Regions from separate parts of the Homo sapiens genome. Here region 1 is reported to be linked to region 2. The links are microRNA targets in miRTarBase. Many come from high-throughput screens and were not tested one by one. Region 2 holds a microRNA gene; the other region holds the end of a gene's coding sequence.
Evidence for each region. The annotated mature microRNA hsa-miR-422a reads ACUGGACUUAGGGUCAGAAGGC and lies in region 2 at 8,803-8,824, shown strand. An mRNA with a match to its seed (bases 2 to 7 or 8) in the 3' UTR can be bound and repressed. Matches are read on the target gene's strand: a 7mer-m8 pairs with bases 2 to 8, a 7mer-A1 pairs with bases 2 to 7 and ends in A, and an 8mer does both.

Region 1 (15,650 bases), not on the chromosome of region 2:
TCTCTTTTTTAAGGTTTTGTGTGTGTGTGTGTTGTCTAGTTGTTTTAAGATGAAAGTTCCCAGTTCTCCCTTGCCCGGAAAGTCTCTGGAGCAAGCGTGGAAGGCGAGTGAAGCGGAAGGTGAGTGAAGCGCGCGCAGCTCCCAGAGGGAAGCGAGAGGCGAGGATGACGGCGGCGGCGGCGGCGGCGACCCGGGCGACGCGACCGTTCCCGACCGACGGCGTGGCCTCCACCGGCGTCGGCAGCCAGGCGCCCGCAGGTGTGGGGCGAGTTCGGCCTGGCCCTTGGGGACAACGGCATCCGACTGCACTCGCGGGGAGAAGGGATTGATGCTCTGTCTAAACTCTACAAAAGTACAGTCCTACAACATCTGGGATTTTAGCAGTAATGCTAACTTCTATAGGTTTTTTTTTTCCTTTTTTATTTTTTTTTTTTATTTTTTGCTTTCCTCTAATTTTTCTTCTATTATATAGGTATTTTAAACTTTTCCTTTTTAAAATTCTGTACAACTATTATGATTTTAAGAGGGGGAAGAGTTAGAAGCATTTACAGACTTTTCACAACAATGACCTTGCTTGGTAAGTCCCATTTGTTCCCCTCCTTGTTTTCTCACACTTCACGGGTGAGTTTTAAGATTTGTGTTGCTTTCCCCAAATATCCACCAATTTGTTCATCTTTTAACAGCTCCATCCAGACATAGAATACAGAAAACCATAGGAAAGTGTCATAGACTTGGATGAGGGTCATCAAAGCGCCTCTCAAAGTATCAAAGAACTATTATCTTGCTGTTTTAAAAGCATTGAAGCGTTATTTTTCCTTTTTTTGTTGTTTTTTTTGTTTTTTGTTTTTTTTTTAATTTTTTATTACATTTTTTCATAGAATCGCTCTAAGCTGTTTCAAGAACAGCCATGAGGCAGGAAGGAGGGGGTCCTCCATTCCCCCTCTATTTGACATAGAGCTACACATCTGCAATAAAAAGTTTGGTCCTTTGGTCCCTAAATAGCTAAAGGAATGACAGATAGAGATGCTCAGTGGCGGCCTCTCAGCCGCCCCTTGGGGACCAGGCCCCACGCACCACTTGCCCCAGCCTGCGTCAGGCGCCCGTGGGCTGGAAAAGCCCCGGGATCGGTAAGCAGCGTCTCCTCCCAGCTCCCAGCCCTTCAGCCTCCCCGTCTGCTCGTGATATTTTGTTTTAAAGTTGCCTTTTGTGTGTTTTTTTCTCATTTTTCTTCATCTTCTTCTTCATGTCATATATATTTTCCCCCAAACACGTGCCCTCTGAACTCCATAGACGCTATACTTTCCTTGAAGAAATGTTACAGTCACACAGACAGTGTCTGGAGTCTTCAGCTTGATTGATATTGGCTGATATGTCAAAGGTGTCATCCAACAGTTCTCATTTATAAATATATATAGAGAGAGGTTTGTTTTTTAATGTAGCCCGTTCAGCATCCTGCCCTAAAATGAAGAAAATCAGGGCTGATTAAGCCAAGAGGGAAAACACAAACAGCATCCAAACACCAATAGGAACCTGCCTCAGGGGCTAGGATGGGAGCTCTAGGGGATGGTGGGAGGGAAGGAAGAGAGACCAGTATGAGAATTAGTCATGATCATGATACATTAAAAAGAAATATACTCTTCTATTCAGAGTAGAAACCACTGGGAGGTCTAGTGGTGATGGTTGTAGCTGAGGTTTCGTTGTTGGGAGAAGGTTCTTGATTTGGGTTACTTTAGCATTCTGGATTGGGGGTAGCTACATCTAAGGGGAGAATTTGGGACTGCGGGATATGAATTCATAATTAAACTTGTCTCTGAGGGATCTAGCCCAGATACAATATGTATACAGAAGCCTAGCAAACAAGATAGGAAAAATCTAGCAGCCCAGCCCACTCCTCCCAGCTCAAGGGAAAGAAGGAAGACACATCCGTGACTCAAATTTTGTAGAATCCTTGCCCAGCTTCCAGCCAACCACTTCTTTCCCGGGGTCAGTAACTATTTGCGAGGCTGTGTATATATATGTATATCTGGATATATGTGTAGAATATATTCACCTGCACATATGTGGATATACATGGATATGTGTGTATGTATATGCATATATACACACATACACACACATAATACTTTTCTCATACATGCCAGGGAATTTAGAGGAATTCAGAACTTCAAGGGAGTGGATGGGAAAACCTAAAAAAGGTCAGAAGAGATTTAATTATCAAACTTAAATAAATTAACTCAGACAGTGCTTGATTTTGTTTTGAATGGTGGCTTTTTGGTGTTTTGTTTTGCTTTAAAAAAATCATGATCTGACTAGAATCAGAAGGCGAATGCTTAATCATTGTGAATTAACAAATGAGACTCATCTCCATTCTAGCAAGCAGCTTCCACTTATACATGGGGGTGACTGGTTACATCAAGAAAGTTAGAACTGCAAAGCCCCCACTTGAGGGGACAACGTCATGCGTATATCAATCCATGCTGGCAGGTTTTTCACACTGTTGATTCAACAAACAGCAAACCGTACACAGCAGTCTAAACAATTACAACACCAAATAAAATAATAATAAAATTAAAAAACACTTGTCAAGGACCCTTTTTCAGTTGTAAACAAAAAGGTGCATTTTGCTTTTGTTAGTACTGTTTCTTCCAAACCAACCAAAAAAAACCCTCCCGAGCCCCCAGTCCCCAGCCTCCCCTCCCCACATTTAATTTAGCAGAAGTGGTTACAATACAAACCTTACAATTGTTACCGGGCTCTCTTGCAGAGGCCTCTGGCTTTGTACTCTAGTTTTTTGGTTTAGAATTTTTTTATCATTCTGTTACTGTAGATATTTTGTTTTTGTTTTTTTGTTTTTGTTTTTTTTCCCTTTGAAGTGAGATTGAAAATAGCCTAACTGGAAAAAGACCAGACCTAGGAAAGTGTCAATTGAAAAAGGCCCCCAAATTTCTAGAAAAAAATAAAATCACAATATTTTCAAGTGCAAGTAAATCAACCACGCATAGATATTTTTAAGATGTTTTCCTTATTTTTAAGAAAAAAATAATGGTTTGCACAGGTAAATGATCCCATGTTTGATAATTCAGGAATTCATCTTTATTTTGACTATTTTTTGTTCTTTTGTTTTGTTTTTTTCTCTATGTGACATCTAGAGAAGCATAAAAAAACGCTGAACAAGAAAAACCAAACAACAGAAAGTAAAACCACTGCAAGCACCAAGAACGAAACGAAAATGAGCACAGCAAAAAAGATTGTGGCAGCACAAAAGTCAAGAAAATGCACGTGTGATCATGACTGGCCAATCATCAACTGATACAACATCCAAGAAAAACGCTCCAATCACAGCACCTCCACGAAACTTGACGGCAATTGTCATGCAACCGATTCTTAGCCTTGTTACATGACGCCATCATGTCACACTGTGAACTTTGAGTTGATTTGAACTTACGGATGGGGGACTTTTCTCCACTCTCATGTGATTACGTGAACTTTATTCCTAGCTCAGCGCGAGACTGTGGTGGATTTGACTGGCCCTGGTTGGGTTGTTGGAATTTGATTGAATGACAAAAGAAGAAAAGATTTATATATATATTTATATATGTAGAGAGAGAGAGAGAGAGGACAAGAGAGTGTGGGTGGGGGAAGGAAGAGGTGGGGCAGGGCAGGTGGGGTTGGGGAGTGTGGGAGGGCAGGGAGGGCTGGGATTTGGGTGAAGGAGGGCAAGGAAGAAGTTAAAACAAAATTAAAAAGAAAATATATTTATACAGCACCAGACCACAGCATCAATCTAGAAGCTCTGATGAGAGAACAGCAGTCAAATCATAAGAGAACTGAAAAGAACTCAAAGGATGGAGGAAGCCAGCAGACAAACATGGGCACATCAACACACACACACGCACACACACACGCACGCACACACATACACACATACACACACACGGTTGTTTATGCAGACACATGATACACTGTGAACAGAAGCAGAACCTCACACAGGGCCACTAAGGGCATCCATCATGCGTTGGGGAGGGGGGCATGGGCGGTTTGGCAAGGGGGCCAGAAAAAAAATAAAACAGCCCCTCAAACCACCTTGGCCAGCAAGCAATCTCAGGGAGCAGGCGCTCTGCTTTTCATCACCCTTGATTCTTTCTCTCCCCCAGGGGTGGCGCTCCCTCCCTCCTCAGCTTTCTGTGACTACAGCCTGTGGGCCAGCAGGGGATGTCTGTCAAGGTGGCCCTGGTCAGCTGGGTAGGTCAGAGGCTTGCTATGGTAACTGCTGTGTCCACGGGGTCCATCTACAAAATGCTTTGCTGCCATAGTACCACCCAGGCTGGCAGCAGCTCGGCCCTCCCACCCTGTGGACCCACCCTGGCCACCATCCTAGAGAAGGCTGCAAGGGCACCCACTGTGGAGGTTATGGCCCTCCCCCGTTTCTGCTCCACCTCAAATTACTTTCCTCAGAACCTGAGCAGGGTTCATTTTGAGATTTAGGGTAAAATTCATCAATGTTCTTGGAATTCTAGAAACATGCCTTGGCACTACTGAGTTCATCTTGCATTTGCCTTACCCTCTTTCTTTGCTCACACTCTTTGCCTTGCTCCCAAGTGGCCTGTGTAACCAAACTGAGGCTGCATCTAGGCACATGAAGCCCTTCGAAGGTTCTGCAGCCCTGACCCATAAAAGCGCCACATGGAAGGCTGGAGGGTGCCCTGCAGGGGGCCATGTGCAAGGCTGGAGGGTCCCCTGCAGGGGGCACAGAGGCGAGCGCCTCCAGCCTTTGCTGCTCCCACTCTTGCTCTGCTGACTTCCCCTCCTCCCTACCCCATCCTCTTTTCCCACCCTCTCACCCCATACCCCTCCAGGAACAGCTTTCCAGCCTGGCCCACCGCAAGGCCCCAACCTTCAGCTTTCTTTCCTGGTGGAGCCCTAAGTAGTTGAGAATGAGTTCTCTTCGCTATCAGGAATCATCAGGTGATTCAACTTTCGGCTGACTTCTCCACCCCTCACCACTTCATAGTCCTCTGCTGCACCTGGGCCCCTTTGGGGTCCTTAGCTCCACCCCTCCCCATAGTTATCTTGAGCTTGCACTGGATTCCCTGCTCCCCTGTGGCACTCAGGCCTGGGCCAAGGCCTGTGTGCCAGGTTGATCTGCAGGCTTTCCAGTCCACAGGCTTCTACATACAGCAGACTTTCACTCTCAGCTTTATGCTTTCCTGCAGGGAGGGAGGGAGGGAGGAAGGGAGGCCTGGGATCTTAAAATATCACTGTGGATGAGGGGCAAAGAAGCTGAGCCCAAGCCCGGCCTCCAGCTCAACCTTCACAGAAGCACCCTAGACTCCTCCTCTGCAGACCCCAGCCTGCCTGCCCACCAGGGCTGGGTTCTTTGCTCTTCCAACACTGGATCTCCTTCCCCCAGATCAGGGACCGTCCCATGCCCACCAAGTCCTGAAATGCCACTTCCAACTCCTCCCAGAAGCCCTTAGACCCACCCAGGATGGCCAACGGGCAGCTCCCGTTGGCACGGGAGAAGAGGCCTAAGGAACTAAGGAGGGTATTGCCATCAGATGGGGGCTGTGGCAACTGCAACTCAGGGACTCCCTGGGACTCTCCTCTTTCTCCCTCCATTCCAGCCCTGAGCCCTTCATGGGCGTTTACTCCTTCCCACTCTGCCTGCTCCTCTCCCAGCTTTAGAGTGCAACCGCTTGTCAGGGCCAGGCACTGTCCTGTGTACTGCAGCACAAACCTGAATAGCACACAGCCCCTGTCCCTAAAGCTCAATCTAGGGAACTTCCTCACACATACCCTCATCTCTCACACATGTGTGGCCCTAGACACATAACACACCCTCACACTCAGTCCCTGAGGAGCCCCCAAGACTCCACGGGCTCAGCTGGCTACTGTCTTCATTAGGCAGCAGCTCCTCTTCTGCCTGCAGGGTGACCCCTTCCCGACCACTCTCGGGGTGGAGGCTCACAGAGCACAGCCCTAGGTGTGGCAGTGGGATCACTGACCGGCATGGTGAAGTCCAACTCACCGAGCTGGGTGAGGAAATTATGGCCAAGCTGAACCAATTCAGATCTCAGGTCCTAAAATCAGCTGGTCTCAAGCAAAGGAGGGCCAGGCCGAAAGCTACAGCCTGGCCCTGTATAGGTCAGACCCAAAGCACCTGTGCCTGCAAAGCCTGGACCCGACACTCTCCAAAAGCATACTCAGAGCCAGAGTCACAGGACTCACTGGGGTCAGGACAAGATGCTTGGTGCACTCTCCAGCCATAGAACTGGAGTGCTAGAAGTCTGAGAACCTGGCCTGCTGCTGGGGCCCAGTGTGTCTGGTAAGCAGTGGCGGAACAAGGGGCTCAGAGGCCAATCTCTGAGCTGGGCGGGGCCAGGCTGGGTGTGTTCTGCCCGCTGGCTATGGACCTGGCCACATGCATGTTTTTGCCTACTCTTCCTGCCTTTGCTTCCTTCCTTATTTATTTCCTGGCAAAGATTGCTTAGAGAAACTCCAGTCTTAGCACAAGACAACAAACCCAAGCCACCAGAGGGGTAGGGCAGTGGGGAAGCAGAAAACCCGCCAGGAAGGAGAGTCACTGACTCCAACCCTAATCCCACCCCACTCAGGACCTTGCTTCATGGAACCAAAGCCCAACTGTACTCCCCACAGCTGCCCTGCCTAGGCCCTTCTCCCTCCCCTAGGTCTGTCCCCACTCCCTTCTGACTTGGCCTTAGAAAGCCTGCACCACCATGGGGCAGCTGCCCTAGCCCTGAGGTCCCCCTTCCACCTCCCACTTTGCTCCCAGCTATGGCTGGTCCCTCGGCCCCTGCTCAGGCTTCCTGCCCTTCTGAGCACCTGGGGCTGCAGCTCAGGCCTCAGCACAAATGAATACCCTTTACTGGCCTGTGATACCAGGCAGTATTTTAGCTGATTTTTTGTGCCTTTTCCTCCCTCGCTGGCAGTCCGAGGGCAGCCACTTCTCATTGAGCCACTGCCTCAAGGCAGTCCCCAAGGCTGCCTTGAGAAGCTCTCTATCTCTTCTTAGCAACCGCCTTCTATTAGAGCTTCCAACAGTCTTGGGCTGGGAAGCCTGACAGCACCATTCGTTAAAATACTGTCTAAATGAAAATTAAATGTCAACCTTACTGTAGGAGTTATGTGACATAGTAGTTTTTTAAAGGACTGCTTAGTAGAAAGGAGGTGGTTAGATGGCTGACCCCAGAAAAGTGAGGTGTCATATGTACTCCCTCAGGACATTCAGGGTACTCTGGGGTAATAGGTTGGGGTGAGGGTAGGGTGGGGCTTCTCATTCTCCTCACTTGAAGGGGAGAAGGCTCCCTGGCTTCAAAGCTTGGCTCTGTGACTCACTAGCTGATGGGCAAGCTACTTAATCTCTCTGTGCCCCATCTGTGAAATGGAAATACTAACACTACCTACCTTATAGGTAGTTGTAGCTATGTAGTTAACATCTCCTAGTTGTTACTTCTCGGAGCAGTGCCTGGTGCATGGTAAGCACTGTGTGAAGGTCTAGGGTTCTAATCTTTCTGCCCTTTGCATGCCCTGGTGGAAGAACCGACTCTGTGTTTTAAACCACTCCTCCCAAGCCCCCACCCCAACTCTGAATGCCAGCTGGTTCAACCCTGTGGGCACTTCTGACCTTATATCCCAAACAATAAACCTGCCTTCTCACTCCTTCATCTGGGAATTCTTCTAACCTAGAGGTTTTATCCTGGCTTGAGCCAAGGAGGCTAAGACAAGCTACTTTCAGGGGTGCCCCTTGGAATCTCGGGACATGACCCTGCCTGATTCATATCCCCCTAACCCCCAAATCCTCTAGTTGACTCTAACACCTTAGTCTCATTAATGAGAAAAAAGAAGCCCAAAGAGGACAAGCACCCTAACCCAGGTCACACCTTAATGGCAGAGCTATGCTGATTTAAGAAAAAGTGTCCTATATACAGAAAAAGCTGCTTTCACGAAACCGTCCCTCCATTCCTATGGAAATGCCCCCATCTGCAAGCTGCCTCCTGGTGTCTGTGTGTGCACAGAGCCAGAAGCTCCTCGAGGGCAGGGATGGTGACTCATTCATCCTTGCATCCCCCACACTGGGCCCAGTGCCTGGCACAAGAAGGTGCCCAAACTCTGAATAACATGTGTGTTTGCATCTGGACACAAGCCAGAAATGGGCAAGGATGGGAAACAAGCCAGAAATGGGCAAGGATGGGAAACCAGGAGGCAGGAAAGACTGGTTTTGCTTTTCCAGGATTGCAGAGAGTGGAGGCACAAGCACTCCCCCAGAGAGAAGGCCCCTGCTCTCTGAGGGTGAGAGTTGCTACTTCTGGGTGGAGGAAGGGTGTTCTGCTGGTATCTGTACCCCAGCACTGGGTGGAAGATTTGAGGGGAGACTGGGAAGCTGGAGACCTCCCTCCCAAACTCTGGACTGTGAAACTCAAATGTGTATTTTTCACATGCCTGATCTTTCTCCCAATCCCTCTGTTCTTCCAGTGACTTGGGCCAAAAGCCTGGGACTCATCCTTGGCTCCTCTTTCAAAATACACCTAGAAATTAATTCCTTCACATCTCATCAACTGCTGTGACACTGGACTGAGTGGTCAGTGCAGTAGACCTATGCTTTGGCCCCCTACAAGCTATTGTCAACACAGAAGCCAGGGTGACCCCACTGAAATGCAAGTTACCCATCACTCTCCTATTCAGAACTCTCCAATGCTCTCTCCATCTCCCATTTCAGAGAAGAGACCAAAGTCCACGCAGTGGCCTTCAAGGCCCCACACCAGGTGGCCCTCCTCACTCTCCCAGCAACCCAGTCTCTTGCTGTTCCTACTCCACTCTGCAGCCCCACCTTGCAGCCTCCATACTGACTGTTCCCTCAGAGGCGGGGGCATGGCTGCTTCCCTCACCTTCTATGCTCCAATTCACTTCCTCAGTGAGATCTACACTGACCATGTGGTTTAACTGTAGCCAACAATCTCGACATACTAGATCATATTCTTTGATCACACGTCATTGTTTATTGTCTGTCTCCACCTTCTCAATCTTGCTCACTGCTGAACCCCAAGTACCTAACACAGTAGCTGGCACACAATACTGCTGAATAAATGGAGGAACATGGGCAGGGAGGGGCGGTCAGAGGGCAGCAGGGTGCTGAGCTGGAAAGGCCCGAAAGGAGCCTTCACCTCTGCTCTGTGAAGAAGCCGAGGCTGCAAGAGCCACAGCACTGGGGGAAACCATTCTGAAGGTTGACTTTTGATGTCCTGGGGAATCTCCCCCCATTCTTTCTGCAGGAAGAACTTTGCTCAGGGGAACACGTGGGCTGGAAGAGGCGTGGCTGACTGTGTCTTCAGCTCCTAGGCAGGACCCAGCCCAGCAGAAAAGGTAACAACGACCACTCATCATGACCCGTGTGGGGCAGGCAGGGCCCGGGATCTCAGTGCTGTACCATCACCCTCCTCAGCTTTCATCCCATCCTGCTTTGTTTCTTAGTAAAGTTCCCTTTGAAAGATCCTGTCCTTCCTCTCTTCACTGAGCTATGGGGAAAGACAGGGGTGCAGGGGTCAAGTGTCTAAAGGCTACCAGCCCTCCTGGAAGAACTGGGGAGGAGAGAGCCGGGGGTCTGGGAGCAGGCCCCGCGGGCGGCTGCAGCTCTTCTGGGTAGAGCCTGTTCTGCCCCCAACCTCCCTCAGCCTGAGCTTGCCACCTGTTCACCCCAGGGTTCTCTGGCCAACAGGACTGCCAATGTAGACCCGGAGGCGCAGGCCCAGGGCTCGCCTCACCCGCCCGGAGTGGCTCCCTCACTCCTGCCCCTGGTGGCCCTGCCACAGGGAAATGGCCAGGCCCATTTCTGCCGGGGTGACGGCAGCTCTGCGCCTGGCCCGAGGAGCAGGGCGAGGAGCAGGTTGAGCCGGGCGCAGCGGGTCCAAGGCACCAGTGAGGGTCCGGCCCACGGAGGCCGGAGGAGGCGGCGGGTCCGTCTGGTTCCCTCCCAACCCCCGTCCCCGCGCCCCGGCCGCCCCCGGTTACCTGTGCGAGTCCTGGTCTCCCCCGGGGGACGCTCCCGCCGGCGCTCAGTACGGGCGATTGGCGTCTTTGGGCCGCTTCAGCTGCACCTTGAGCCTCTTCATGCCGATCTGGAAGCCGTTCATGGCCTGGATGGCGGTCTGCGCGCTGGCCGGGTTGTCGAAGCTCACGAAGCCTGGCGAGACACGAGGGACGAGGGCCTGGGTTTCCACGGGGCCGCCCGGGGCGCTGCCGGCGGGGAGGGGTCGGGGGACAGGGGGGCGGGGCGGGCCTGAGGCTCTCCCCCTCGGGCCCCGCCCCCGGCCCCGCCCCGGTGCCCGCCCCTCTCCAGCCCGCGCGCGCGTGCTAGGCCCCTCCGGGGGCAGGCGCTGGCGGGGACCCGGCTCGCTGACCTGCGCCTAGTCTCTGGCCGCGTCACTCGCCCGGCGCCCGCTCCCCAAGTGGGGCCCGCGGCCGGGCGGCGCTGGGAGAGGCGCCCGCCCCCCACCCCCGCCGGCCCCGGCACCTCAGCCCTCGCCTCGGCGGGAGAGGGCGGACACACCTGCGGGTGGAGGAGTTTATTGGACACTGTCCTCCCTGACAGGAGGGGGCCTGGCAGCGCGCGGGCACAGGGTGCCGGCCTGGGGAGAGAGACGAGTGCGAGGGGCCGGGAGGGAGGCGCCGCCGAGAAACTTCTCCACCGCCGGCCCGGCCGCCCCCCTCGCCACCGCAGGTGCCCGGCTGTCGGAGGAGGCCCAGAGGCTGAGCCCTCGCGGGCCCTCCGCCCCCACTCCCGGCCTCTGCCCGCCCCGCCAGGCTCCGGGTGGGCCCTGGGCGTCACCTCGCCCCGGGCGCCGTCGGCACCTCTCTTCTCCACGCCCTGCGCCGTGGACTAAGCACGCACCAGCTGATATGTCCATAACAAGTCACAAGACCATCAGTGCAAATCAGGCCACAGCCCTCCGTGCAGAAGCGCTTCCCACGCGTTCACTCCTGTGCCCAGATGGCATGCAGAACCTTGCGGCTCCCAGGCCCAACCGCGCAGGTCCCAGATGGGCACAGGTCATGTTCCCAAAATGAGGTCAGAAGTCACCTTTGGGGAACTCTGAATGCATCTCTTCATACAGACAACATTTTACATCAGCATTTCCCAAACTGGCCCTAATAGGTGCTCCTCGAGAAAGGGCTTGTGTGGTCAGGAGGTTTAGAGCCAGGCCCACTGGGCCAGTGCAGCATATCAACAAATAACGTCCCCTCCCTCACCGAGTTGTAGTAAATGAACCTTTATAGCTTTGTTTAATCTAGTATTTCCTTGAATTCATTCGACTTTAGAGGCCTTTTCTCCTGTAAAAAGGACTTAGATCCTGCAAAATATATGAAAGCTTGGCGAGATACTGAGGCGTTCCCATGAACGTGCCCGTTGCGTAATGGTCCCCAAATGGCCATTAGGTATAAGACAGAGATGCACAGCCACCCGGGAGTGAAGTAGAAGCCGTCTTCTCAGTTTATTGTCTGTGGTACCTCGGGCCTGCCTTGGGACTTCTCTCCAAGAAAGAGAGCCCTTCCTCACTTTCCCTACCTGCTGGTTCTTTTTCCCTCTTTCCCTCTGCCCCAGATGCTGCCTCCATCGTCTCTTTCTTTCTCTCCTCTCCTTCCTGCCTTGCTCAAGTTTGCTCCTACAGCCGAACAAGCGCAACAATTGGTCAGAGCTGGGCCCAGAGCAACAAAACTAACCTCTGTATAAATATAGATACCAGAATAAATAGGGAGAATTTCAGCTGATCCATACGAGATTCGCCTCCAGCCATATTTCCACCAGCTCCCCTCAGCCCCTCCTGGCCCGTCCCCACCTCCGCTGACCTGTATGTCTAATCACTAAAGTCAAGTTACGTCAAGTAAAAGTCAAGTACTTAGTAAACCAGAGCAGTTTTCAAATATGTGAATTGTGTGTTGATACTGCTTTCCCCAGAATAAGGAAGGTGGCTGGACAAAAGCCTGTCCCTGCCAGGACAAGGTAGCCTGACTATGGGGGACATGCTGCCCCTCATTCTTCTCATCATCCACCTGAGCTCAAAGAAGGGAGGGGAAAGAAGATAAAAAGGGCTGGAGGAGCTGTCTAGGGCACAGGCGTAGCGGCAGGCAGAACCACTGTGTGGGGAGGGCAGAGAGGAAGTTCTGGAGGAGGGCAGAAGCCCAGCCTTCCTGGAAGAGTTTAGAGGTCCTCGGAAGCCCGAGAGTTGAGAAGCAGTCCAGGGTCAAGGGAATTTTTCTTCCCTTGAACTGTTAGTAACTGGCTAGCAGTCTGAGCAGGGTCCCTCCCCTGCAGACTGGAGGCCCCTGTGGCAGGGCTCTGGGCACTGTCTCCCAAGTTCATGGTTCCAGGACCGTCTTCCTTCTTCCAGAGCTACCTCTCCTTCCCTCCTCCTATCCTCAGAAGGTTTCTGCTCCCAGGCCCTGTGGGAAGGCCCGCAGATAGAATCCCCCTATGGTATTCCCCCAGCCCTCCTTCCAACATAGGAACATTTGTGCTAGACATGCCCTCATGAAGGTATCTGGAAGATTCTGCTCATAAATTTACACATGTGCTTATAAAGAGTGAATGTGGCCTTTGAGGAGTTCACTTTAACATAGGGCCACTTTTATAGCAAAAATAGCACTTTAAGAACAAAGGGGACCTAGCACTTCCTGAGGGTCTGCCCTGGGTAAGCTCCCTCACAGCATCCCTGGGGCGATGATTAAAATCCCCTTTTCACAAAGGAAGAGATTGAGGCTCACAGGGTTAAATGACTTGTCCATGAGGGAATGCTGAAGTTAGGTATCACTTTATTTTATTTTTATTTATTTATTTTGTTATTTATTTTTGAGACGGAGTATTGCTATGTCACCAGGCTAGAGTGCAGTGGTGTGATCTCGGCTAACAGCAACCTCCCTTCCTGGGTTCAAGCAGTTCTCCTGCCTCTACCTCCTGAGTAGGTGGGATTACAGGCGCACACCACCACATCCAGCTAATTTTTGTATTTTTAGTAGAGATGGAGGTTCACCATGTTGGCCAGGCTGGTCTCGAACTCCTGACCTCAAGTGATCTGCCCGCCTCAGCCTCCCAAAGTGCTGGGATTATAGGCATGAGCCACTGCACCCAGCCTAGGTTTCACTTTAAAGGCCTCTGGGATATTGGCAGAAAGCTCAGCTGCCTGGTGAGAGAGAGAACCCAAGTGGCTTAACCAGGAACAGCTGGGCTGGACCAGCATCTCAGGAGTCTGTCCTTTTTTCAGGGCTGGTATGCTCGACATCAGAAATTTGTTCAAGAGAGGAGAGCTAGATTAGAGGTATACTAATTAGAGAGAAAAAAAAACTGTAGTCCTGGCTAATTTAAGTGGGCTAACAGCTTAAAGAGGGTAGTGCTTAGAGCAGACTGCAAGGAAATGCCTTTGGAAAGCCGGACTGCACCCACACCCGGGATGGTGCAAATATGCCAAGCCCAGCTATGGCTGGAGACTAAACCTGTTCCAGCAGAGGCGCCCAGAGCTTCCTGGGCTCTCAGCAGCGCTCTTCTCATTTATGTAACATTTGGGACTTCCTTAAAGAGCAGATGCAACTGATTTCCAGCTTGTTGTTTTTACATACATAACTGTAATTCATAAGGAGAAATACCAAAGAGTGGAGGACTGCAACCCTGTCTTTTGCTTCTGCTTTGTTTTTCCACACCCAGAGAGAAATGAGCTGCTGGGGCAACTCCATGCCATTGAAAGACCACAAGTTTCCTGTGGCAGCTCCAGAGGGGAAGGGACAATGGTGCAAAGATCTTGACTACTTTGGGGAACATGCTCCGAATCCTCAAGCCCTTCATGATTCCAGAAGGTTGGACTCCAGACTGGAAACTCCTTAACATGCGCTTCCTGATGCTGCACTCCTGTCTCCTCTCCCCTCCACCACCCCCAAGCTGTGACCTGGGTTCCTTGCAACTCAACCTCCTACTCTCTCCTCCCAGCCCCAGAATCTGGGGGTCAGCCTGGAGATACTGAGTGTCTGGCAGACTCAGCTCTGGTTCCATATGTGGCTCTCTGGGGACTGGACTCTTCAGTCCTCATGACTTACGAAAGGGTCTGGCCCAGAAGGAACGGATGAAGGAGAAGGATGAGGAGGTCGGAGGGCAACAAGGAGGAGTGGAGGAGAAAGGGTGATATGAAATTCCAGGAGGAGGTCTGACGCTTGCTGGATAGGGTTGCCAGACTTAGCAAATAAAAACACGGGATGCCAGTTACATTTAAGCTTCACATCAACAATAAATACTTTTTACTGTAAGTACATACTTATACTAAAAATGTATCCTTTGTCTATCTGAAATTCAAATTTAACTGGCCATCTATATTTTATCTGACAGCCATACTTCTGGATGCTTTCGAGTTTTCCCTCTCCCATCTAACACCATGCCCTGAGCACATTTCCTGCAAACTGTATTTTTATTACTCTCAGCTCAAGGACCTCCCACCATTTCCACTGCCTACCACACCCCGTGAAACACCCCCCTCTGCATAGTGGAAACCCCCCAGCACAGACACCACACCCCCGCGCCTGGTCTCCCTCTCACTGTCCTCTGGCTCGTCTCACCCCAGCCCCATGCCTTCCTCATCCAATTCTCCCCACGTGGAGTTCCCTCCCTTCCTTTTTGTGTATTTATATCCATCTGCCTTCCTTGTCGTTTCATTATTAGGTGCCTCGCAGATTTCACTGCTATAAACATAATTTTCATCTAAGCTCAGCGCTTAGGCTTCCTGAGGGCAGGGACCAGTCTCCTCTTCCTGACTCCTCAACAATGCCCAGCTCTGGTGGCCTGAGGCAGGTGAGTGGGGAGGGCAGGAGGGGAGCAAAAAGCAGGGTAGACAGAGAAGGAGTTGGGGCAGGACAGAGAGCTGGAGAGAGGAGGCGAAGGGGTGGGCAGGAGAGGGGCCTGGCTAGGTGACTGCCCTGCCCAGGTGTCACGCTCTGATTTAGCCTCGGGCTCAGGCCAGGCCACTCTCACCATGAGAGGAGAGGGGCTACTGGGGGAATGGGTGTGGCTGGGCTCTGCCTGCTGCCCCTCCTACCCCTGTCAAGGTGGCCCCTTTCCCTTCTCAGTAGGTTGGAATTTGTCTGGAAGAGGAAACCCATTTCTTGGACCGGGAGTGGGAGATGGGGAGCCAGGTTGTGTGGGTAGGGAAAGCCAAGAAGCAAAAGGAGTAGTGGGAGAGAGAAGGGTGAGATGAGGCTGGTGAGGGCCATGGAGCAGCTGGGGCGGGGGCAATGTGAAGGAGCAGGTTAAAAGCAGTCGGACACCGGTAGGTTGGTGCGAGCACCGCCCTGTCCTAGGTGAAGCTAATTGGTTTGTTATCTTTACCCACCAAAGCATTTACTTTGGTTAGTCGCCCGATCCACAAACACTTTCGAGGAGATGACATTACCGAAAGGGAGGAACATCTGCATCAGCTCAGCGTCCCCAAACTCCTGGGGCAGATGGTAGATGAACAGGTTACAGCCCTCGGGCCCTGCGGTGAGGGGAGGGGGTGGGCGGGGGAGGAGGGATGGCAGGGTGGGGGAAGAGAGAGACAGAGGAGAGGTGAGCGAGTTAGGCAGCGCAGCAGGGAGGGGTGGGGGCAAGGTTAGGAGGGGGA
Region 2 (15,650 bases):
GGTCAGGAGTTCAAGATCAGCCTGACCAACATAGTGAAACCCCGTCTCTATTAAAAATACAAAAATTAGCTGGGCCTGGTGGCACGTGCCTGTAAACCCAGCTACTCGGGAGGCTGAGGCAGGAGAATTGCTTAAACTCAGGAGGTGGAGGTTGCAGTGAGCTGAGATTGCACCACTGCACTCCAGCCTGGATGACAGAGGGAGAACATCTCAAAAAAAAAAAAAAAAAGATACTTTACACACTTTTTTAAAAAAGCATTTTCTCTCTTATCACGTTTTCTGTCTCTGGCCCTCCCATCTCTTCATCCTGCAGAGAGGCTGGACTTGGTGAAAGGAGGAGGCAGGAGGAGGCCTTTTGGCTGAACAAAAGGCCTACCCCGTGCCCCACCCCCACCCTAGAGGCATACAATCATTGCCAGCTGAGCCACTGGGCCCAGGGTTTCCCCAGCCTTTATGGTTGGGTTTGCATTGAGGCTTCTGGTTCCTGGGGGAGTCTGGCTGCAGAGTGGCCCCATCGGATGCTCTCAGATGTCCCCTCCCACCCACCTGCAATGGCCCCAGTCCACACACTGTGGGATGTTTTTATTCTTTCCTGCTCTCCTCTTCTCCCCTCCCTTCCTCTCTCTTTTTTCCTGTCTTTCTCTCTCTTTCCCTTTCACAAGCTGGGGCTAGAACATCAACTTAAGGAGGAAAACACAAATAAAGGGCCTTCCTCAGGGAAAAACCTGATCAGAGGAGACTCTGTGCCTGGAGCCTGTTTTCTGCCAGCTGTCAGGGATTCTGTAGGATTGGCCTCTCCCAACCCGGAGCTCCCCAAAGCCAGGTTCCTTCTCCCTGCTGCTGTCCTTTGGCTTGGAGAGTGGGGACCTGCATGTCCTGCCTCCTCCGCTTGACCCAGGAGGACACGGCCTCTTGGGATTCTGAGGGTAAGTGCTCCCTGCAGTGCCATCGCTCTTTCCTGCTTATTACTTCACCATCCTCACAACAACCCTGTGTCGGAAGAGAGTGTTCAATGGGCACACAGTTCCATGACCATTTTACCGATGAGAAAACTGAGGCCACACAACTACTAAGACACAGGCCTTCCATCTCTGAGTCCTGCACTTTGCTTAGGTGAGTAACTTCAGCCATTGATCTGGTCATTCTGTGCCCCTCTCTCCAACCTCCCTGGGGTTCTCTTGCTGAAACTGTCTGAATTGGGAATGCAGCCTGGCTCCACGGGCTTCCCAGGTTCCTGCCAGAAGCACCCAGGCTAGCTTTACTGCAGGAATGGAAGCTACCCTCTGCTCCATTTCTGCTAAGAAGAATGCCTCAGATAGGCGGGCAAGGTGGCTCATGCCTGTAATCCCAGCACTTTGGGAGGCCGAGGAGGGCGGATCACTTGAGGTCAGGAGTTTGAGACCAGCCTGCCCAACATGGTGGAACCCGGTCTCTACTAAAAATACAAAAATTAGCCGGGCGTGGTGGCATGCACTTGTAATCTCAGCTACTCAGGAGGCTGAGGCAGGATAATCGCTTGAACCCAGGAGGTAGAGGTTGCAGTGAGCCGGGATCATGCCACTGCACTCCAGCCTGGGCAACAGAACAAGACTCCATCGCAAAAAAAAAAAAAAAAAAAAAAAAAAAAAAAAAGCCTCAGTTGAAACTAGAAACCTGTGGGCATCAGAAAATACTTACCAACCGCTTGCTCATGCCCCACTACACCCTAAGGCAGAAACAAGTGTTCCCCTGGATGCTTGTGGTGAGAGGTTGGCAGTAGGTCCCTGGAGCTGGGGCCTGTTGCAGCCCCTGGGATCAGGTGAATCAAGGGAATCAAACACTTCTGTTCCACTTCCAGATAAGATAAAGGTTTCACTTTCTTCTCCTTGGGGAAAGAGCTGACCTTGCCAGGTGACAAAAATGCTAATGAGGCCCCAAGAGAACCCCTGCCTGGTAGAAAGGGTACTGAGCTTGGAGTCACAATGTGCTCTGCTCATTTCTAGAGGAGTGAACTTGGGCAAACACGGTTGCCACTGCGCCTGTCTTGTAAGTTGCTGGGAGGGGTGATGAGAAAATGCTGCAATGCTTATGGCCTTAGAAAGATGCTCATGATATGTTGGTATGAAAAAGCAGATTACAAAAAAGGTATATATACTAGGCCCCCATTGCTGTGAAATATAGAAAAATAGCCAAGAGCCATATTCCACTATGCTAACAGTACTTATTCTGGGTGATAGGATCATGGGTGTATTATTTTTCCCTGTTTACTTATCTATATTTTTAATTTTTTCTACAGTAAATATATATTATATAATTATTAGCTATTGCCACAATAATACTGCATAACAGACCAGCCCCAAATCTCAGTAGATTACAACACAAGGATTTATTCTCAAGCTCACAGTTCTGCAGATCAACTGCAATTTGACTGACTTAGGTTGGGCATGGAAGGGCTGCTCTGTCTCAGCCCCGCCCTGCTAAATCAGTCAAATTGCAGTTGGACTAGGTCTGGCTCCTCACTGCAGGTCAGGCTGTATGCCCCACGTGCCTTCATTCTGGGGCTCTGGCTGAAGGGGCAACAGTTATAAAAGCTTGCTTCGCTTCACCTTCCAGCTTGTCAGAGCCCAAGAGACAAGCCAAAATGCACAAGCATGTATAAAGCCTCTGTTTACCTCATTTCCTAACATTTTATTGGCTAAAGCAAGTCCTATGGCCAAGCCCAACACCAATGGGGCAGGGAAGTATATGCCACCCACAGTGGGAGTGGGAGGGGAGTGGGTATATTCTGAGTACTAACCCAGTTTATTGCTTATTACTTGTATAATAAAGCAAACATAATGTGCTTTGTGAGATGTTTTGATGTTATCCACGAGAGAGTATCCTACGGGGCTCCCCAAGGTTAAGAAAGTGGAGCCATTGTAGAATTTTATAGTTAGAGGATAGAATTAATGTGTTTTCTTTGTTTGTTTGTTTGTTTGTTTGTTTGTTTGAAACAGGGTCTCACTCTGTCACCCAGGCTGGAGCGCAGTGGCACAATCCTGGCTCACCGCAACCTCCGCTTCCCAGGCTCAAATGATCCTCCCATCTCAGCCTCCCAAGTAGCTGGGACTACAGTGTGTGCCCGCACACCCGGCTAAGTTTTTGTGTTGTTGGTAGAGACTGGGTTTTGCCATGATGCCCAGGCTGGTCTTGAACTCCTGAGCTCAGAGCTCCACCCACCTTGGCCTCCCAAAGTGCTGGAATTATAGGCATGAGCCACCACGCCCGGCCCTGAGGATAGAAATAATGTGAAAGGGGTAGGCTGACCCTCTCTTCCTTCTCCTCCGTCCCTTTAAGATTACCAGACACGACCATTTATGGCACCTACAGGCTCATAAAGGAAGGCGGAAAACTCCCACACAGCCTCATGGGCCATTCTCGCCAGAGGCCCAGGACCTTGCTAGTTCCCATCCAGATCTGTCTGAATTCACTTCCTGCTGACTTCCTTTCTCTTGATTTCTCTCAGTTCATCCAGTCATTCATTCAAGTTCTATTTATTGAGCACCTACTATGTGCTGGCACTCTTCTAGCCGTGGGGTTATGTTGGTGAACAAGGCAAGTGTTGATAAACAAGGAAGTCTTTCCTCACAGGGATTACATTCTAGTGGGGAGTGGGGTGGGTGCCCGGTAGGGGAGAAATGCTAATATCAAGTAGTGTGAATGCTAAGAAGTAAGTAAGATGGGAGAGTGCAACAGAGAGTGACAGGGCGAGGGATGGCTACTTTGGATAGTGAGGTCAGGAAAGGCTTCACTGAAGAGGTGCTGTTAGAAGTTACTGGAAGATGCTTCTTAGGAACTGATATTTAGGTCTGGGCTCTCCAGACCTTGACTCTTAGTCCCTCTCAAGAATTTGGCTTGGGTTCTCCCTACTGTTCGCTCTCCACTTTGGCCTGCTGTGGGGAGCTCTCCTGTCCTAGCTATCTTCCAACCAGCTTCCCACTGGGTCTGGTGCCCAATCGGCTTAGCCAGTCCTCAACAAAGAGGAGACTCAAAAAAAACCCTAGTAGATCAAGCCAGTCACTTACCGAACTCCTATTGTATACCAAGCTAGTAGGCGTTTATTGAGCACTTTCTGTAAACCAAACCAATAGGCATTTATTGAGCATCTATTGGATGCCAGATCAACAGTCATTTATTGAGTGCTTACTGCATATCCAAACCAACAAGTGTTGATTTACTGTGTTCCTGGAACTGAGAAGAAAACAAAACTATTGCTCTCTAGAGACTTGCAATCAAGTTGTGAATGCAAATGTTACACAAATGCAGACCATTAGCTATAAAAGGCAGGACTTACAACTGTAAGTGCCATGTTGTACAGAACAGCGTCCCAGGAAGCTAGAGACAGCCTAGAGGTCATCATGCAATGGAGTAGCCACAGAAGGCTTCATGGAGGAGGTGAAAATTGAACTGGGCTTTAAGGACTGGATAGGATTTAGATAGAAAAGAAAAACAGGGGCGGACCACAGTGGCTCACTCCTGTAATCCCAGCGCTTTGGGAGGCTGAGGCGGGCAGATCGCTTGAGCCCAGGAGTTTGAGACCAGCCTGGGCAACACGGCGAGACCCCATTTCTACAAAAACTACACAAATTAGCTGGGTGTGGTGGTATGTGCCTATAATCCCAACTACTAGGAGGTTCAGCTGGGAGGATCACCTGAGCTCAGGAGGCTAAGGCTACAGTGAGCCATGTTTGCACCACTGCACTCCAGCCTGGACAACAGAGTAAGACACCGTCTCAAAAAAAAAAAAAAAGAAAAGAAAAATAGGGACTAGAGTAGCATGGCCCAGGCCTGGGGGCAGTTGTGTTTTGGAACCCTCGGATAGAATTCTGAGCATTCATCATTTGGGCCTGGTGTCTTCTCCTTTCTGGTTTGTCAGCATTCCTGTAACAGCCAGTCGCTATGACCCCTTTCTTCTAGGCCATGGCTAGATTCCTTGGCAGTCATAATTTGCCTGAGCAATCCAGGGCTGACATAATCTGGCTAATGTCAGAATGGGCCACCCTGCAGAAAGGTGTTTGTGATGCTCTAGGTGGATAAGAGCATAAAAACCATGAAGATTGGCCTCAGGATATGCAAGTGCAGTGCATTTTTAGTCCAGGTGTTCTCTCCTCTTCTCTCAGGAGTCCTTAAAAACACTCATGTTCGGCTGGGCGTGGTGACTCATGCCTGTAATCCCAGCACTTTGGGAGGCCAAGGCGGGCAGATCACCTGAGGTCAGGAGTTCGAGACCAGCCTGACTAACATGGAGAAACCCAATCTCTACTAAAAATATAAAAAATTAGCCAGGCATGGTGGCGCGCACCCGTAATCCCACCTGCTAGGGAGGCTGAGGCAGGAGAATCGCTTGAACCCAGGAGGCAGAGGTTGCAGTGAGCCGAAATTGCACCACTGCACTCCAGCCCGGGTGACAGAGTGAGCCTCCGACTCAAAACAAAACAAAACAAAACAAATTCATGTTCATTTCTTCAGCCTGGAGCCTTGAGACTGCAGCCAGGACTATTTAGAATTCATAGATTCGAGATATGGGCTCAGTGGCCTCTTTATATATTTCTGAAAGCAGGAAGAATTTTATATCATTATTTTATTACTTAGATGATTAATAATATTCATATTATTAACCGTGTTACAATTTCAGATTTTCTGCTTTCCAGAAAATGGTCATGAGAAAATCTGAACTTGTAAAATGACTCCATTAAAGATAATCATTTTTTCACATTATAAATATTTATCCAGTACCACTCTGTATAGTCTGGGTCTGGGGGAAAAAAGGGAATAAGCCATAGATTCAGGGTTCTTTGAGATAGGGAGCCCTCTACCCCTTAACTATAAAGCTTAATATAATTTGTGGAAAGAGCTCTTTATACAGCTTTTCAGGAAGCTTGCTCTTCCTCCTAGTTGGGGGTGTCTGTACCATCTGTAGGATTACTTTCTATTTCATTTATTTTCAGGTCACAAAGTCTGTGCAGCACTCAGGAAGCTTGGAACATTGTCATTGTGGAGGGAATTGTTCAGACCTGAGGCAAAATAAAAACCGAAACTGAAGGCCAGGTATGGTGGCTCACGCCTGTAATCCCAGCACTTTGGGAGGCCAAGGTGGGTGGATCACATGAGGTCAGTTCAAGACCAGCCTGGCCAACATGGTGAAACCCTGTCTCTACTAAAAATACAAAAATTAACCAGGTGTAGTGGTGTGTGCCTGTAATCCCAGCTACTCAGGAGGCTGAGGCAAGAGAATCGCTTGAACCCAGGAGGCGGAGGTTGCAGTGAGTGGAGATCGCGCCACTGCATTCCAGCCTGGGCAACAGAGTGAGACTCTGTCTAAACAAAACAAAACAAAAATAACCTGAAACTGAGAGGTAGGTGTAAAACAGGCTGGAAGATTCATTTCAAGATATAAATAAACCTACGTAGACTTTCTTCCCCACTTGAGTCCCAGGGAAAAGTGAGAAGCAGCCAGGCAGGCACAAAGAGATCCCTGAGATTCCAGAGGCAGCCAGTCACTCCATCTGGAAGGAAGCAAGGAAGCTGTGGGAGGGAGGAGGGCTAAGGAGTTCTGTCCTGTGCTGTTTAAAGAAAACCAGGCAGCAGCTCACATTAGTCCCCGACATTTCCATTTCATGGCAGGTGGCACATGGTGCAGAAGAAGGATTATATAGGTCAGTCTAAGCCCAGCCAGCTACCACTAGCTGTATGGCTGTGTTAGCCCAGGTCTTCCAAGTAGCAGACATCAAGACAGGGTTAGACTGCAGGAGATTATTCGGTAAGTGTGCAAAACTGGAGAGGGAGCTGGCAAGGCTGAGAGAGGCGTCAGACGTCAATGCAGGTCTGACCCATGTGATGGAGAGAGGGAAGGAAGGAAGGTTACATCAAAGTATCTTACACGGCAGTGCAGTTCTAAGAAAGGTCAACAAGGCCAGTGGATTAAGGGGGTCCTTGAGCTAAAGATTTCCTTCAGAGCAGTGCTGTCAATCTCAACTTCCAGGTCGGCCTTAGTATCCCCATAGGCGGATACTAGTGGGAAGTATGGCCTCAGGGGAAACACCTCAGGTGACTTATCTTACCTCTCTGAGTTTTGGTTTCCTCAATTATAAAGTGAAGGTTTTTGAGAGGATTAAATAAAATAGCATATTTAAATTAAAGTGTTTACAGCCAGGGTGTGGTGGCTCATGCCTGTAATCCCAGCACTTTGGGAGGCTGAGGTGGCTGGATCACAAGGTCAGGAGATTGAGACCATCCTGGCTAACACGGTGAAACTCTGTCTCTACTAAAAATACAAAAAAAAATAGCCGGGCGTGGTGGCGGGTGCCTGTAGTCCCAGCTACTCAGGAGGCTGAGGCAGGAGAATAGCATGAACCCTGGAGGTGGAGCTTACAGTGAGCCGAGATTGCGCCACTGCACTCCAGCCTGGGTGACAGAGACTCTGTCTCAAAAAAAAAAAAAAAAAAGTGTTTAGAATGGAATCAACTGCCTAATAAATGTTCAATGAACATAAATTCCCTTCCTTGTCTTCTTGTACCCCATCTTGAGGCAAGTTTGGCACAGCGATATGACTCCTCTCCCCAGCCTGTCCTTCAGTCATCCTTCTTCCCTCTCCCCAGCCAGACACATAGGAGGCAAGTAAGTGGCCCTAAAGGCCAGGGCCTGAGTGCTTGTGTTTTTGTGTTTTGGTAGCCAGGCCTTGAGCCTTTATCCTGATGACATGGGGCTTCAGCCCACAGCTAGGCTGGGATGGAGGAGGGAGACCCCAGAAGGAGAGATATCACTTTTTTTTTTTTTTTTTGAGAGATAGTCTCTTTCTGTCACCCATGCTGGAGTACAGTGGCGTGATATCAGCTCACTGCAACTTCCACCTCCTGGGTTCAAGCAATTCTCATGCCTCGGCCTCCCGAGTAGCTGGGCTTACAGAAGTGCACCACCACACCCAGCTAATTTTTGTATTTTTAGTAGAGAGGGGGTTTCGCCATGTTGGCCAGGCTGGTCTTGAACTCCTGGTCTCAAGTGATCTGCCTGCCTCAGCCTCCCAAAGTGCTGGGATTACAGACATGAGTCACTGCGTCTGGCCAGATACTATTCTTACTTAGGAGAGGTTACTGCGTAGTTGGAAGGTTAAGCCACACCCCTTGGGAACACCGTCAGGGAAAACACTTAGGGAAGCTCTGCTCCAAAATTTTTCAGGCTGGGGTCCAGAGGGTCTGCTGCCCCGGGACTAATGCACATGTTCCCTCAGAGAGAGCCTTTAGGGATGGCTGTGTAAGACAGTCCCCAGCCCCACCCTGCCCACTGTCTCCACCGTACCCTCTATCATCCTCTGCATGCCTCATGCTCCTGCAGTGCTCTTCTCTCTCTGCCTCTGTCTCTCTCTCCCCAACCTCATAAATCTAGGCTTTGTTCCTGCTGGTCCCTCTCCCTACAATGTCTTTCCCTTCCTTTACCCTCCTAGTGAACACCTGCTTCTCTATCCAGCTCAGATGTCCCCTCTTCTAGGCAACCTTCCCTGGCGCACTGCTCTCACAACTGACTCCAGTCCCCAGGTCTGGCACCCCACCTCTCTGTGCCTCAGTTTCTGTAGCTGGAAAATACGATGATGATGACGGTACTACCATAGCTAATCACAGGGTAGTGGTAAGAATTAAATGAGATGATAAAAGCACCTTGTGAGGGGGCTGTATCAGTGAGTGTCATGGTCAGTGGTAGGTATGTGTCAGCAGATGCATACCTCATTGGTGAGCATATAATACTGTATGTTGCTGGGGGAAGCCCACAATGTGAGGACACGAGAGAAGCACTGGACTTAGGGTCAGAAGGCCTGAGTCTCTCTGCTGCAGATGGGCTCTCTGTCCCTGAGCCAAGCTTTGTCCTCCCTGGGCCTCAGTTTCCTCCTTTGTTCATTTAGGCATGGCCTCCAGGGCCCCTCCTGGCTATCCTAGCTTGGCTCAGAAGCTCTGGGTCCTGGGCTCTGAGCTCCGAGGCCCTCCCTGCCCAGCTCCTGTTCTCAGTGCTGGCTCCCTAGGCTGGACAGCTCCCATGCTATTAATATTCCTGGAGACAGCAAAGTCTCCCAACTCTCAGCATCTGGACAGCACCTCAGGCCAGGAGCATGGAGGCCCAGGCACACATCAGACCCAGAGCTCCAGAGTAGGGCATGGGAGAGTGGGGAGCTCCTTCCTGGAAGAGGAGGTTGGCACCGGCAGCGAGGAGCTCCAGTGCTTCGGAGGGGGAGCAGGAGGGGGTTGGGCACACCCTTAGTGGAGGAGCTCAGAGACTGTGGCTTTTGGGTTTTGCCTGCAATCCTTAGGGCCAAGATCACCAAAATCATTTAGACCCTGACATCCTAATTGGTCCTAATCCACATATAGAATATAGGATTCTCACTTGATCCTATGGAAGAGAAAAATTTTCCACTGTGAATGTTCAGAATCTTCTTAGCAATCAAGGGCTCTATCCCACACATAGCAATTTTGTCACATCCTAGACTATGGGACTTTTTTTTTTTTTTAAGTGCTTCAGTGTGTCTTTGATGCTGGATTTGGTAATTGGTTCTTGGGTTTTAAAGACTTGGTATTTCCACGGTGAGTCATAATTGTTCGTTGACATACCTCATTGCCTAATGCCATTTATAGCCCCAAAAGATAACATACATCACATGAGGATTTTTTAAGCTCACTTCTTTAAACAGATTCTATATTGTACTGTTTGCTAGGTCATTCATCCATCCAGTATTCTCTCTGCTTCCTCATTTCTCCTGTGTGCTGGAGACTGTGCTCTCACCTTCACACCCCTCATTTTATTTAATCCTCACAACCATCTCAGCGAGGCAAGAATTATTATCCCCTTTTCAAAAATGAGAAAAATATGACTCAGAGAGGTTAAGTGATGTGCCCAGGGCCACACAGTAAGCGACTGGAATTAGGATTTCAACTTAGGGCACTGAACTTTTCATCATAGCAAATTGGCCTCCTCTCTCCTCCTAAGCTCCCCACTTCTCATAGCATTCAAGTCCTCCTCACTATTATGTGTGTTTGTGTGTGTGTGTGTGTGTGTGTTTTAGAGACAAGGTCTTGCTCTGTCATCCAGGCTGGAGTGCAGTGGTGAGATTATACCTCACTGCAGCCTCAAACTCCTGGGTTCAAATCACCCTCCCACACCAGCCTCTCAAGTAGCTGGGACTATAGGCACATACCACCACACCTGGATAATTAAAAAAAAATTTTTTAAAGATGGGGTCTTGCTGTGTTGCCCAGGCTGGTCTCAAACTCCTGGCCTGAGGGAATCCTCCCACCTCAGCCTCCTGAGTACCTCCACATTATTTTGAAGCAGAGAACACTGGGGATAATTATGAGTTTTTTGTTTGTTTGTTTGTTTTTGTTTGATGAGAAGAATATTGTCTAGGTTTATTTTATTTTTATTCTTGATGAGAAGAATATTGTCTAGGTTGATTTTGTATTATTATTCTTGATGAGAAGAATATCGTCTAGGTTGATTTTTTTTTCATGAGCTTATTTATTCATTCAATACATCTCAATGAGAACTGGCTAAACAGGGACACTTGGTGTTAGCCCAGAGACCTAGAGGTCATGGCCACTTATTACATGCCGGGACCCATGGTCATTCCATAACCACCCTGCTCCCACCCTGAAAAAGAGTCACAAACAATTAGGACCCAGACTGGTGGGTGGTCTTGTAGGAGAGGGTCTTGTAGGAGAGGGTCCAAAGAAGTGAGGACAAAACCCTACCAATTAGAAGTCAAGTCTGAACTCCAGACAGGAAAAAAGAAAAAAAACCCATCAACTCAAAAAACCCTCTGTTCCCGTTAAGAGCATAAGCTTTAGATTACAAAGTCTTACATAGTGGGAGATATCCTTGGGAAGGAGGTGTTGTGAGGTGGAGAAATAGAGGCACTGATGTTGGCACCCAGAAAATCTTGGGCCATCTCTCAGGCAAGTGGCTTGATCTCTCTGGCCTATGTTTCTTTATCTGCAAAACAGAAAGATGCTTTCTGTTTCTCAGGGTGAGGGGAGTAAATGAGCTAACATGTGCAAAGCCCTCCATTCCTGAAATGTGGCAGCTACTTTAAAATTGTTATTTCAATGCCATGAGTTATGTGTGGAGCAGTTGGTCCAGAATAGAGGGGGAACAAAATTTGGATCAAAGAACAGCCCCTGAGGGATTAAGCATTCATATAAGATAGACATGAATCATTGCAAAGGCACACCCTTTTTCCCAATGTGTCAATGAGACTTCTTCATCCAATGAGTTAGTCTAACCGGAGGTGAGGTGGGCTCTAATTCAAGACCTATAATAGACCAGGCATGTGCCATTGATAGATGCTAATGATGATTGCAAACAAAGGGGGGTGGCTGCATAAATGTAGCTTCCTCTACATGCTCTGGAGGAATGGGAACATCTATCTGAGACCTCTGGTTGGGGACTATAGGCTTAAGAAGGCCAATATAATAGGGAGGACAGCATGGTAGCGAGAAAGAAGGTGGACTTAAAGCCAGAAGAGCCAGGCTCAAGTCCCAGCTCTACTTTCCAACAAGCTTTGAGACCCTGGGCCAGCCACCAAGTGTCCTGTCTGGTTTATGAGAACAGTTGTCTTAGTATCTGCCTCACCTTGGTCATAAAACTGTTGTCAGAAAGACAAAGTAGGTCCCTCAAAAAATTAAACATAAAATTACTAGAAGATCCAGCAATTCCACTTCTAGGTATACAAAAAATTGAGGCTGGGCTCAGTGGCTCACACTTGCAATCCTAGAACTTTGGGAGGCTAAAGAGGGAGGACTGCTTGAGGCAGGAGTTCAAGACCAGCCTGGGCAACATAGTGAGACCCCCCCTTCTCTACAAAAAAAAAATTAAATTAGCTGGGCATGGTGGCATGCACCTGTGGTCCTGGCTACTAAGGGGGCTGACGTGGGAGGATGGCTTGAGCCTGGAAGGTTGAGGCTGCAGTGAGCTGTGATCACACCACGCACTCCAGCCTGACTGATAAAGTAAGATCCTGTCTCAATGAATGAATGAATGAATTGAAAGCAGGGACTTCAACAGATATTTTTACCCTCATGTTCATAGCAGCGTTATTCACAAGAGCCAAACAGTGGAAACAACCCAAGCATCCATTAATGGATGAATGGATAAGCAAAGTATGATACATACACAACGGAATACCATTTAGCCTGAAGAAGGAATGTAATTCTGATACATGCTTCAACATGATGATCCTTGAAAACACTATGTTAAGTGAAAGAAGCCAGACACAAAAGGAGGACAAATGTATGATTCCAGGTAGATGAGGTTCGTAGAGGAGTCAAACTCATAGAGAAAGAAAGTAGAGTAGTCATTATCAGGAGCTGGAGGAGGAAGCAATGGGGAGTTATTGTTTAATGGGTACAGAGTTTCAGTTTAAGGTGGTGAAAAAGTTTTAAGATGGATGGTGGTGATGCCTACACAACATGAATATACTTAATGCCAAAGAATTGTACAGTCAAAAATTGTTAAAATGCCCAACTACTCTGGAGGCTAAGGCAGGAAGACCGCTTGAATCCAGGAGTTCAAGGCTGAAGTGAGCTATGATTGTGCCACTGCACTCCAGCCTGGGTGACAGAGTGAGACCCTGTTTCAAAGAAAAAATAAAAAGTAAAAAAGATAAATTTTATATTATGTATATTTTAACACAATAAAAATTACCTTTTTTAAAAAAAGAAAGATATAGGCCAGGCGCGGTGGCTCACGCCTGTAATCCCAACACTGTGGGAAGCTGAGGCGGGCAGATCACGAGGTCAGGAGATTGAGACAATCCTGGCTAACACGGTGAAACCCCGTCTCTACTAAAAATACAAAAAAAAAAAAAAAGGAAAAAAAAATTAGCCCGGCATGGTGGCGGGTGCCTGTACTCAGGAGGCTGAGGCGGGAGAATGGCGTGAACCCGTGAGGCGGAGGTTGCAGTGAGCTGAGATCGCGCCACTGCATTCCAGCATGGGAGACAGAGCGAGACTCCATCTCAAACAAAAACAAAACCAAAAAAAAAAAAAAAAAAAAAAAAAGATATACTGTAGAGGAGAGTCATTTGCAATCTGTACAGCAACATGAAATAATTAGCTGTGGTAGAGGGGTTAGGATGCAATAGTTACATTATTATAACTACCCTCTACCACAGCTAATTACTATTGCTCTACAAGATTTCATATTGCTTTACAGGTTCTCTTAGAGCAATTGTCAAAATTGAGACCCTCATCCAGGACTTCTACAAACTGTTTTCCAATCTGAAAAATAGCAGGAAGGAGTAGATTTTTTTTTTTTTTAAGACACTGTAAGAGCTGAACGTGGTTTCCCTGGAAAGTGGGAAACGGGAGTGGTAGGGGCTGATGTTTTTCCTAACAGGTTTGTAGAACTGGAATCTTAAAAAAAAAAAAATGTTCCTGATTCATTATTTTCTAATGCTCTTTATTTATATCTGCTCTGATCATTGACTTCTATCCCACAATAAAGTTGAACCAGCCAGTGAAAACCATGGTTGTTATAGCTAGGAAGAGGGTGCTGAAGAACACTGAGCACCCTGTGTTCCTCCTTTCTGCTGGGCACGCAGTGATGGGGAGGGCCCTTACCCAGGACTGCTCAGTGTGTCCCCATCGGTAAAAGGAGCCATTGGCCTTCCTGTTTATCAGCCTCTCAAGCGTCTGCATCAGAGGCCTGGGTTCTCCAGAGCTTGGTTACCCCAGAGTGAGCTTTGCAGGTGGAGTTTGACAACTTCTGAGATGAAGATCAGACTCAGGGTCTAGGAGACATGGGCAAGGTTCTTAACCTGGAGCAGCCCAGAGGTCTGGGCCCCTTTAATGACTGTACACCACTTAGGGTGAAAATTAAATTGTAAACTGTGTGTATATGTGTTAATATATACCAACAAATAAAACTTAACTTGGGCAGTAAGTTGGCACGATTCCTATAAACAACACTTTATAGGAAATAATTAAATAAGCAAATTAATATGCCCATTCATGTTTTTTAACAGATTTACTGAGCTATAATTCACATACCATACAATATACCCATTTAAGGTGTACGATTCAGCCAGGCACAGTTGCTCATGCCTGTAATCCCAGCAAATTGGGAGGCCAAGGTGGGCGGATCATTTGAGGTCAGGAGTTTGAGACCAGCCTGTCTAACGTGGTGGAGCCCGTCTCTATTAAAAAATATATATACAAAAAAAAATAGCCAGGCATGATGGCGAGGGCCTGTAATCCCAGCTACCTTGGAGGCTGAGGCAGGAGAATCTGGGAGGTGGAGGAACCTGGGAGGTGGAGGCTGCAGTGAGCCGAGATCGCGCCACTACACTCCAGCCTGGGCTGGACTTTTGAGACTCCGTCTCAAAAAAAACAAAAAAGTGTACAATTCAATGGCTTTTGGCACATTAATTTATTAATCTTAACATTGTGAGAAAATATATATAACATAAAATTTGTCATTGTAACCTTTTTTTTTTTTTTTGAGATGGAGTCTCGCTCTGTCACCCAGGCTGGAGTGCAGTGGCGCGAACTCAGCTCACTGCAAGCTCCGCCTCCCGGGTTCACGCCATTCTCCTGCCTCAGCCTCCCAAGTAGCTGGGACTACAGGCGCCTACCATCACCCCCGGCTAATTTTTTTTGTATTTTTTAGTAGAGACGGGGTTTCACATGTTAGCCAGGATGGTCTCGATCTCCTGACCTCATGATCCACCCGCCTAGGCCTCCCAAAGTGCTGGGATTACAGGCGTGAGCCACTGTGCCCGGCCCATTGTAACCATTTTTAAGTCCATAGTTAAGTTGATTATATTCACAATGTTCTTTTATTTAATCCCTGTGAAGATGCCATTTTATAGATGAGAAAACGGAGGCTAAGTTAATGAATTTACCTATAGCTACTCAACGAGGAAGCAGCCAAGTAGAGTTGCAAACTCAAAGTCAAGCTGAAGGCTGGGTGCTTCCCAGCAGGCCAGGTTACCTTCTATGAGGTGGAGAGGCTCCTGGCAGATCAACCATCCAGAGTAGCTGGAAGGCGGGCTTGTTGTTGCCTAAAGGAGCCAGGGGAAACCGCACAGCATGCTTTGGCCCCTCATGGCTCCTCACTGACCCTCCTAAGTCGACTTTGAACCACAGTGACATGTACTCTCCTTTGTGCCCTGACACCTGTTCTCCCTAGAGGGCACAGATGGGCTACCTCCTCCTCCTCCTCCTGGCCAAACTTTTTGAAAGAAGGACCCACAACTCTCTCTGATTCCTCATTCCTTGTTATTCCTCAGTCCACTGAGATCCAATCCCATCATTCCTTTGATACTACCTGCCCCCATCGGCGTCACTGAGTGGCCTGGTGAGCAAATCTAATGGATCCCTCTCTCGGGGCTGTACTGGCTTTCCTAGTGGCTCAATGGCACCCCACTCTCCTGGTTCTCCCAATTCTCATCACCCCTCTGCTTCCCTCACTCCTCCCTTCCCTAAAGGGAGGGCATAGAAGGCCAAGGGAGCCCTAAGCTAGGCCACCATCTGTTTCCTCAGAGTCTGGTCTGTCTTTGGACTGCACTTGCTTGCCTGGTCAGTCTCCCATCTCCCTTAAATTCAGAACCATCCATGTGTGGCCACTACCAAATTTCTACCTCCTGCCAG

Region 1: the mRNA of CELF4 is a reported target of hsa-miR-422a. The part of its 3' UTR that is shown has no 7-base or 8-base seed match.

What each region holds. Positions count from the first base shown.
Region 1 is chr18:37,243,741-37,259,390 of GRCh38, forward strand. It overlaps CELF4 (CUGBP Elav-like family member 4), which reads right to left. Exons shown (of 13, transcript NM_020180.4): 11 at 15,441-15,524; 12 at 10,027-10,198; 13 at 1-1,457. The coding sequence ends at 10,071. Among named protein-coding and RNA genes, the nearest start is that of SNORA111, 210 kb to the right of the region's middle. RefSeq lists enhancers at 5,797-6,297, 6,298-6,798 and a silencer at 10,319-10,468.
Region 2 is chr15:63,864,163-63,879,812 of GRCh38, reverse strand. It overlaps MIR422A (microRNA 422a), which reads left to right and starts at 8,794; the gene lies at 8,794-8,883. RefSeq lists an enhancer at 24-919.